Homo sapiens: one gene and its partner. The protein of the gene in region 1 interacts with the protein of each later gene in a pairwise test. Each region holds a gene or a part of one and is shown on either strand. Other genes may lie near its edges.

The links.
Region 2: the proteins of KIAA1549 (region 1) and SOD2 interact in a two-hybrid assay, tested with the Homo sapiens proteins (one large-scale study listed by IntAct).

Annotation. Positions count from the first base shown.
Region 1 is NC_000007.14:138,977,679-138,983,594, reverse strand, and holds the start of KIAA1549 (UPF0606 protein KIAA1549), read left to right. Parts: upstream 1-2,205; 5' UTR 2,206-2,325; coding exon 2,326-2,512; intron 2,513-5,916. UniProt on the Homo sapiens protein: May play a role in photoreceptor function.
Region 2 is NC_000006.12:159,676,242-159,679,741, reverse strand, and holds part of SOD2 (superoxide dismutase [Mn], mitochondrial isoform A precursor), read left to right. Parts: 3' UTR 1-3,500. UniProt on the Homo sapiens protein: Destroys superoxide anion radicals which are normally produced within the cells and which are toxic to biological systems.

The DNA.
Region 1 (5,916 bases):
AAACACTATTGTCTTTGAGTTTGCAGAGAATGGAGAAGGAGACTCCTTTCTTTTTTCTTTTCCTTTTTTTTTTTTTTTTTTTTTTGAGATGGAGTCTTGCTGTGGCACCCAGGCTGGAGTGCAGTGGCGTGATCTTGGTTTACTGTAACCTCCGCCTCCTGGGTTCAAGTGATCCTCCTGCCTCAGCCTCCTGAGTAGCTGGGATTACAAGCACGTGCCACCATGCCTGGGTAAATTTTTCTGTGTTTTTATTAGAGACGGGGTTTGCCATGTTGGCCAGGCTGGTCTTGAACTCCTGACCTCAGGTGATCTGCCTGCCTTGGCCTCCCAAAGTGCTGGGATTATAGGCGTGAGCCACCGCGCATGGCCGAGGGAGGCTTTTTTCTCTGACACCAACGGGTCTAGTGTAGATGGCAGCTTGCAGGAGGCTGAGGCCAAATCTGAAGATGGAACCTCTTCACGGGCGGAATGCATGCTCTGGCTCAAACCAACGATTGTCTACTGAGGGCTTACTGGGGCTATGAGAAATCCTAAGCAGGATAGCACCATATTTGAATTTCATATTAATTTATTGGAGGTGGGGTGGGGGCTGTGTGTGCAAAGCATAAATTCATAAAAGATAAAACAACACAACAGGACAAGACCATTCAAGAGTTGCACGAAGGCAGTGGTTTGTGGTCAAATGTGCTGTTATAGAGAGTTCAGAGAATAAAGATAAGTGTGTGAATAAGAGGTCCCAGATCTATGGCCATGGTGTCCTGGGACCAGACATATCTGGGCAGTTTCTCTTAGGTACTTACCTGGGTGTGCACGCAGAACCCTCTTTGGGAGACAGGAGCAGTTACTGTAATAAACATAGGGGCTGTATGATGGGGGGTTACAATAACGTGTAAAAACACCAGGAACATCAACAAAAGCTTTTTTTAACCTTTATTCTCATTTTCCTTGAAACTACCAGGTTTCAAGTACCCACCTGTAAGGACCAGGTGTGTACCTACAGAAGAGTGCCCCTGTCCTATTCTTAGGAAGAACTATTCGCCAAGGGCAAGGAGTCCAGAAGAGTTGGAGCTGCAAGGCTGGGCAGCCCCTTCAAGGGCTGGGCCTGGCAGGGGAACCCGACTGAATAGCCGCGAGGATCCCTCTGCCAGTGTAATGATTCACCTTTTCCGCTGTCTGCCATAGTTTTTCTGCACGAGATAGTGTCCCCCACACACACCGTTAATATCTGCTTGATGCAACAATGCCAGTGGGATGCAACGATTCAAAACTTCCAATTCCTCCTCCCTAGACCCTGAAGCCACGGGGCGTCTTCAGAGTGACGTGCCTGGCACACAGTAGGTACTTGACAGATGTCAACTCCCTTCTTCCCGTTCCTCATTCCCCCCGCGGACTCCAACCCTCAAACGCTCTCTGGGCATTCTCTCCACCTCTCAGGAGCGCCACTTTCCCTAAAACGGCCTGGCCTTGCGGGTCTCCCCAGCTCCACGCCCATTCGCTTCAGCAGCCGCCTGCTCAAGGCCTGCTAAGTGCAGGGTCCCGCGGGCCTCCCAGGCCCTGAGCGCAGGGTCGCTTCCCGAAGACCCGCAGAGGTGGCCGCACCTTCTTAAGGCAGGAAGGCGGGGGAGAGCTGCGTGCGCTCTGCTCGCCCCTGCCTTGCACGCTGAGCTCTAGCGCAGGAGCCCGACTTTGTCTGGCTTTGTCCCCTCCGCGGCCCCGAGGCTGTCCTGAGAGCGCGGCGCCCCACACACCTGCTGCCCGCAAGGAGTCGGCGGGAGAGGAGGAGCGAGGGAGGCGAGAGGACCCCTCCCCCGGCTTGCCGGCCTACCCTGATCCGGGCGCCCCGGGGAACGCGCGGCGGGACCCGGGGTTGGGTGCGGGTCGGGGCGGCACCGCCCGGCCCAGGCCCCCCGAGCCCCTCGCGCTCCCTCCGGAAGGCGGGTCCTGGGGGAGGGCTGGGCCGCGCCGCCTCGCCGCCCTTGCCGCCTCTGCCGCGCCGAGCCCCGCGCACGCTGCCCCGGCCGCCCCGCAGGCAGGCAGGCAGGCAGGCAGGCAGGCGTCCGGCCGGCCGGGAGGGGGTGCTCGCCGTCCCGCGCCCGGGCCCGCGCGTTGCCGGGCAGCGGCTCCGAGGCTCCGAAGGGGGCGGAGCGGCAAGGCGGGCGTGCGGCTGGCGCCCCTGTCCTCGGTTCCGGCCCGGCCCGCCCCCGCCTCTCCGGCCTCCCTCCGCGCCGGTGCGCGGCGCCCCGTCCCAGCCGCAGCCGCAGCGGCCGCCCCTCCCGGACCCGAGAGCCGCTGAGCCGCGAGGCCGGGCCGGGGCGCCGGCCGGGAATGCCGGGGGCGCGGCGCCGACGCCGAGGCGCGGCCATGGAGGGGAAGCCCCGCGCCGGGGTCGCGCTGGCCCCGGGGCCGAGCGGCCGACGGCCTTCCGCCCGCTGCGCCCGCCGCCGCCGCCCGGGGCTGCTGCTTCCTGGCCTCTGGCTGCTGCTGCTGGCCCGGCCGGCCTCGTGCGCCCCAGGTAAGCTCCGCCGAGACCCTCGGAACGCGGCCGCGACCCCGCCTGCCTTTATCGCTGCTGTTTTCAAAACCCCGGCTTTCCCCGCCCATCCTCTTTTATTCTCCAGCTCCCTCGCCGTCCTTTCTGGAAGATGCTTTGCCATTCTTCTGGGGCCCAACAAATAAAGGCACGGGGGAAATAAATAATTAAAACGAACAAGCGAGCGGCTTCTGGCCGGTCTTGCTAAGGGGTCTGCAAAGCTGTTCTCTTGTCCATGGAACCCGAAGCGGGTCTGGTGGCTTCATCTCAGAATGTGCCTGGTTTTTCCTGCAGAATGCAGGCACCGGCGTGCTTTTTTGTCAAGGCTGTATGATGTGGCATATCGAATGTTTTGAGATACTTTATTGTCGGGGCGAAGAGGTGGATTCGAGGTGTGCTTTAAAAGAGTATTGCATTACCGGGACAAGCCCAGCGTCCCCCAGATGCGGGCAGGCCGGCCGTGTCCCCCCGTACAGCAGGACACAAAGAACATTCAAAGAAAACCTCTTGGAAAGCGCCCTGGCCACGGATCTTTCCAGGGAAATAGCTATTGGTATTACTTCTGCAAGGCATTATTAGTACAATGGAGTGTGAAAATATTTTGATTCTTAAGTGTCTGGGCATGAAAGGAGTAAGGGCTGTTTTTATAACAGATGCAATTTAGTGACTGTTCATCAGTATGGAATGAAGAGGCATGATTTATGAAGAAGCATAAGGGTTTTGTTGTGGAAGAAATGATTTAATTCCTATTGCTTCTCCAAAATGTTTATTTGTCCACCCTGAGCCTGTACACAGGATGGTCTGGAAACCGTCTCTGAGCTGACACTGCAGGCCAGCGATTGCCCCTGCACAGGCACTTGACCACTTTGAGGCGGAAAAGGAAAGGTGGAAGGAGCAGCTAGGGGTGGAGAGCTGCTGCACACAGAACAAAAACCAGAAAGCCGTGAACGCTGCTCCGAATCCTCCTTTCTCGTGGGAGCAGGGCCAAAGGGCTACTCAGTGGCTGGGAGGAATTGGAACACATTTGAAGGTGTCCCTTGGACCTGTGAGAATTATAACCAGTGCCCTAGAGGGGATGGTACAATAGAAGCACAGGGAGGACTTCAGGGATCATGGAACAGGTCCACTCTGCTTACCAAAGAGGAAACTAAGGCAGAGAAGTGCCTTGCTCAAGGTCACAGTCATCACTTTCCCTGCCTCCCACCCCCGCTCTTGGCCCATAGACATATCCACACCTGAAGCCTCTGCAGAGATTTCCCATAGCTGGGTGGAACCAGGGTTGGGGTGACAGAATGAGTCTCTTTTAGGCAGTATACAGCTAGTGCAAACACCTTACTCTAACCTAGGACCTCCCGTCTCAGTCCTGCTCCTGCGAGTTCCAGCCCTGTGTGTCCAGAGGAGAAGAGATCATTGTCAAGGGTCTCTTGGCTTTAGTCAACAAAGAGAGCCCATCTGATACTCGTGGATTCATCTGTCATAAGACACAGCAGATAAATGGTTTCCATCTCCTGAGTGCTTTTTGTGTGCCAGATGTTGAATTTTATATACACGATCCAATCACGTTGTGAGTTAGGCATAGTTATCCCCATTTTACAGATGAGGAAACTAAGGCTTTGAGTTTAGGTTGGTTTGGCTTCAGACTCTATGACATGCTTCCTTTCTGTGCCTGATGGCTTCCCCATATGAATGTGGCCATCTGGGTGTACTGCAGAGGTTGTGGAGAATATAAGTGCTTCTGGTAACTTTAAAATAAATAGTGAAGCTGTTTGCACTGCCCATCCCTAACCTTCTCTTCTTTGGAAGTCCTTTCCTGCTTCCCCTCTACCCCCAATACAAATATTCAACCTGGAGACATGAAATTAATAATATTTCCATTCTAGACCTGACATCATGGAAAGAGACTTCATCCTTTCACTGGTTTGTATATTGGCTTCAGCCGCTGCCAGGCTCATAGACTAGGAACTAAGAAGTGGAGGGCACAGCCCCTGTGCTCCAGGATCCAGCTGGAAACACAGAGCAGTGAAGGAAGTACAAACCCTTGCACAGACCATTCCCGGACAGGAAAGGCAGGATTCCTTATGGATGACCTGCTGGAGGTGACCCCATCTACTTGAAGACTGTGAGGAACGATCTTGGTGGAGGGTGGCTTCCTGATGTAGCTAGGGTGTGTGTAGGGTGCCTGGGCGGTGCTGTTGATCCTGGGAAGAGGGTGCGTTGCAGTTGCTTGGGCTGCCCTCCCAGTCCTGAGTGTGGTATTTTCACCAGGAGATTTGGAATGTAGGAGAGCTTTGCTGAACACTGCTGTGGTGGTTGGTTCTCTTTCTAAGGAATAAGCAGTGGTAGTCAGAAAATGGCATGGCTTAGACCTGTTTTGGACTTCCTATGTGAGGCAGCATTCCCTTCCGTGGCTGTCTGAAAGCTATCTCCTCCTTCAGCTGGCTTCTCTTGTTAACTTTTGTTCAATAGAGTCCACCTTCCAGGTGGTCCCCTTATTACAGTCTTTGGTTAAATCTCTATGTTAAATCGATTTCTTGTCTATTTGTATTTCATTCAGCATTTTGAGTGTGTTTTTTTAAAAAAAAAATTTACAAGTTTGGTCTTAACCATTGACTGTTGTGGAAACAACTTGTAATGCTTTGGACTTACTTTTGAATGCATTGCTCTTAAGTGATTAGCCATCCACAGTATAAAAACAAAGAATCATGCCCAGTTTCTTCACCTTATTCAGAGATAAGTTTTTAAAAAGTAATAGTTATTATGAAATAGATTGCTTTGTAGGGAATTTGGAAATTACTGAAAGGTACAGAAACCAGTCACCCATAATCTCACAGCCTGTAGGTAACACTAAGTAATTTTATCGTTTTTTTGTTGTTAACATTAAAAAAAGAATTATATGCACAATTGTATTTACTACCATTTCCACTCTACATTTAACTTAAGCATTTTTCCATTCATTAAGTCTTATTTGAAAACTATTTTCTATCCTAATGATTTATTCTTTTATTTCCATTTTTTGGGTTGCTGTAAGTAATGCTGATGAATAGCTACATAGAGAAGGCTCTGCTGGCCATGCGCGCTGGCTCACGCCTGTAATCCCAGCACTTTGGGAAGCCGAGGTGGGCGGATCACCTGAGGTCAGGAGTTTGAGACCATCCTGGCCAACATGGTGAAACCCCGTCTCTACTAAAAATACAGAGATTAGCTGGGTGTGGTGGCATGTGCCTGTAATCCCAGCTACTTGGGAGGCTGAGGCAGGAGAATTGCTCGAACCAGGGAGGCAGAGGTTGCAGTGAGCCGAGATGGCGCCATTGTACTCCAGCCTGGACGACAGAGCAAGACTCCGTCTCAAAAAAAAAAGGCTTTGTGCATGTTTCTTTCCGTGTGTG
Region 2 (3,500 bases), on another chromosome or scaffold:
GAAAAGAACAAGTATTGTTCATCCAAGAAGGGTTTTTGTGACTGAATCAGCAGTGCCTGCCCTAGTCATAGCTGTGCTTCAAAAACCTCAGCATGATTAGTGTTGGAGCAAAACAAGGAAGCAAAGCAAATACTGTTTTTGAAATTCTATCTGTTGCTTGAACTATTTTGTAATAATTAAACTTTGATGTTGAGAAATCACAACTTTATTGTACACTTCATTGCAACTTGAAATTCATGGTCTTAAAGTGAGATTTGAATTTCTATTGAGCGCCTTTAAAAAAGTAATACCAAACCATAAAGTTAAAATCTATGTATATTGAGTCATATCTAAAACCACGTATAAACATAAATTGTATTTCCTGTTTTAATTCCAGGGGAAGTACTGTTTGGGAAAGCTATTATTAGGTAAATGTTTTACAAATTACTGTTTCTCACTTTCAGTCATACCCTAATGATCCCAGCAAGATAATGTCCTGTCTTCTAAGATGTGCATCAAGCCTGGTACATACTGAAAACCCTATAAGGTCCTGGATAATTTTTGTTTGATTATTCATTGAAGAAACATTTATTTTCCAATTGTGTGAAGTTTTTGACTGTTAATAAAAGAATCTGTCAACCATCAAAGAGGTCTGCATTATGCTTGCATGTCAAAAACTTTAAAAATCCTATAATCTTCTGTCATTTTCACTGAGTTTCCATGGGAAAGGAATAGTAAATAATGGGTAGTTGAAATATTACTCTTAAGACCAAGACCTGTATCTCCAGTCATATCTGTAATAACATCATCTGATAACCTAAAAGCATAGTATTAGGGATATACGACAAAACCAAAGTGTTTTTGCTGTTGTCACATACCACTCAATACTTTTACACCAGGTTGTCCAGTGGACACCAGCTGGATGTCCTATAATTCAATTCTGACACTGTCTACCTGGAATTGGAGTCAGATCCCACAGGTGGAGGGCTCAGCCCACAAGACTGCCCCCACTCCAGATACCAATCGCAAGTCCCTATACTTCTGACTGGCTATAAAGTGGGGTTCCCGTGACCCTTTCCTTGGTTTTGATTTATTTGCTAGAGCAGCTCCCAGAACACAGAGAAACACTCTACTTATGTTTACCCATTTTTAATTTTATTACTTTATTAAAACTACATATTGGTTACAATACTAATTTATTGTAAAGGATATTTCATTTATTTATTTTTTTATTTAGAGATGGAGTCTCACTGTGTCACCCAGGCTGGAGTGCGGTGGCACAGTCTCAACTCACTGCAACCTCCACCTCCTGAGTTCAAGCGATTCTCATGCCTCAGCCTCCCAAGTAGCTGGGATTACAAGTGTGCACCACCATGCCCAGCTAATTTTTGTATTTTTAGTAGAGATGGGGTTTCACTCTGTTGGCCAGGCTGGTCTCAAACTCCTGACCTCAAGTCATCCACCCACCTCAGCCTCCCAAAGTGCTGAGATTACAGGTGTGAGCCATTGCCTCTGGCTTGTAAAGGATATTTCAAAGAATACAGATGAACAGCCAGATGGAAGAGATGCACAGGGCAAGGCATGTGGGAAGGGGTATGGAGCTTTCATGCTCTCTCCACGTCATCAGCTACCCAGAAGCTCATCTGGACCCCGACCCTTTGGGGTTTTACGGAGGCTTCATTATGTCAGCATTACCATTGGCAATTGGCGATTAACTCAACCTTCAGCCTCTCTCCCCTTTCTGGAGGTTGGGGGTTGAGGCTGGGAGTCCAAACCCTCCAATCTTGCCTTGGTCTTTCTGGTAAGCAGCCCCCCGTCCTGAAGCTACCTAGAGGCTCCCAGCCACCAATCATTTCATTGGCAAACCAAAGATACTTCAAGGGGTTTAGGAGCCAAGAGACCAAGCAAGGATTGAGACAATATATATATTTCTTATAAATAACATGATCACAAATAGTATTTTATATATTTCTCATAATAGCTGGTTGTGGTTACTCACACCTATCATCCCAGCTACTAAGAAGCTAAGGCAGGAGGATCACAGGCCCAGGAGTTTGCAGCTGTAGTGAGCTATGATTGTGCTACTGCACTCCAGCCTGGGTGACAGTGTGAGACCCTGTCTCTTAAAGTTCTTGTAACATCTTAGAACATTAACCAACCACAGATTATTGCCTTAACTCTGAAAAATAAAGTAATCATACTTTTACAAGATGTATTTTACATAAAGTTCTGGTGATATTTTACTCTGGTCATTGGAATATAGGAGCTTACCACCTGGTACCACTCTTCCTAAAGTGGTATACTATTTGGTATAGTACTGGCATACTATTTGGAAAGGGATGTGAAGTTGGCATGACCTGTCTAGGGTGAAGTCATGCTGTCTGCTATTCATTGTGGGCTTTACAGTAATGAGAGTGCTTCTGTTGTCAAGATGCTTCTGGGACACGTTAAAAAAAATTTAAGATTTCTCAGTTTGTGAAAAGGAAGGAGCACGAATGCTTTCAAGTTCCTATGACATGCTAGTCATCTTTCAGTGTGTCCCATTGTTGCACCCAGTAGTCTCGATGCCCAGCGTCACGGTGATTCCAAGTTTGCCTCTCTGCCCACTATAATTTGTGCTCCATGAAGTCCCAGGACATGAGGTTCTTGTTCATTTGTGCGTCTGGGCCCATATCCAAATATTAAACAATGTGACTTAATGTATTTATCATATTGTAAATATGGGTATCCCCAAGGCTCAGAAGTTAACACAGCATATCCACAGAGAGGTTTGACAGCATGGCTGTGGTGACTGGGAAGGCCTTATGCTTGCTCCTCCTTCTGCTGCTTGCCTTTGTGTGGGCATGGAAAGAACATTGAATTAGGTACTGGAAGACCTGGGTCCTGGTCTTGGAGATTTTACCAGAGCACCTGTGGGATATTGGTCAAGATGCCTGGTTTTAGTCCTGCTCCTTTGCTGTGAAAGAGGATCTTAAGGTGCCAACTCTGGCATTTTATTTTTTACTTATTTATTTTTAAATTATACTTTAAGTTCTAGGGTACATGTGTACAACATGCAGGTTTGTTACATGTATACATGTGCCATGTTGGTGTGCTGCACCTATTAACTCGTCATTTACATTAGGTATATCTCCTAATGCTATCCCTCCCCCTTCTCCCCACCCCTCGACAGGCCCCGGTGTGTGATGTTCCCCTTCCTGTGTCCAAGTGTTCTCATTGTTCAATTCCCATCTATGAGTGAGAACATGCGGTGTTTGTTTTTTTGTCCTTGGAATAGTTTGCTGAGAAGGATGGTTTCCAGCTTCATCCATGTCCCTATAAAGGACATGAACTCTTCCTTTTTTATGGCTGCATAGTATTCCATGGTGTATATGTGCCACATCTTCTTAAACCAATCTATCATTGATGGACATTTGGGTTGGTTCCAAGTCTTTGCTATTGTGAACAGTGCCACAATAAATATACGTGTGCATGTGTCTTTATAGCAGCATGATTTATAATCCTTTGGGTATATACCCAGT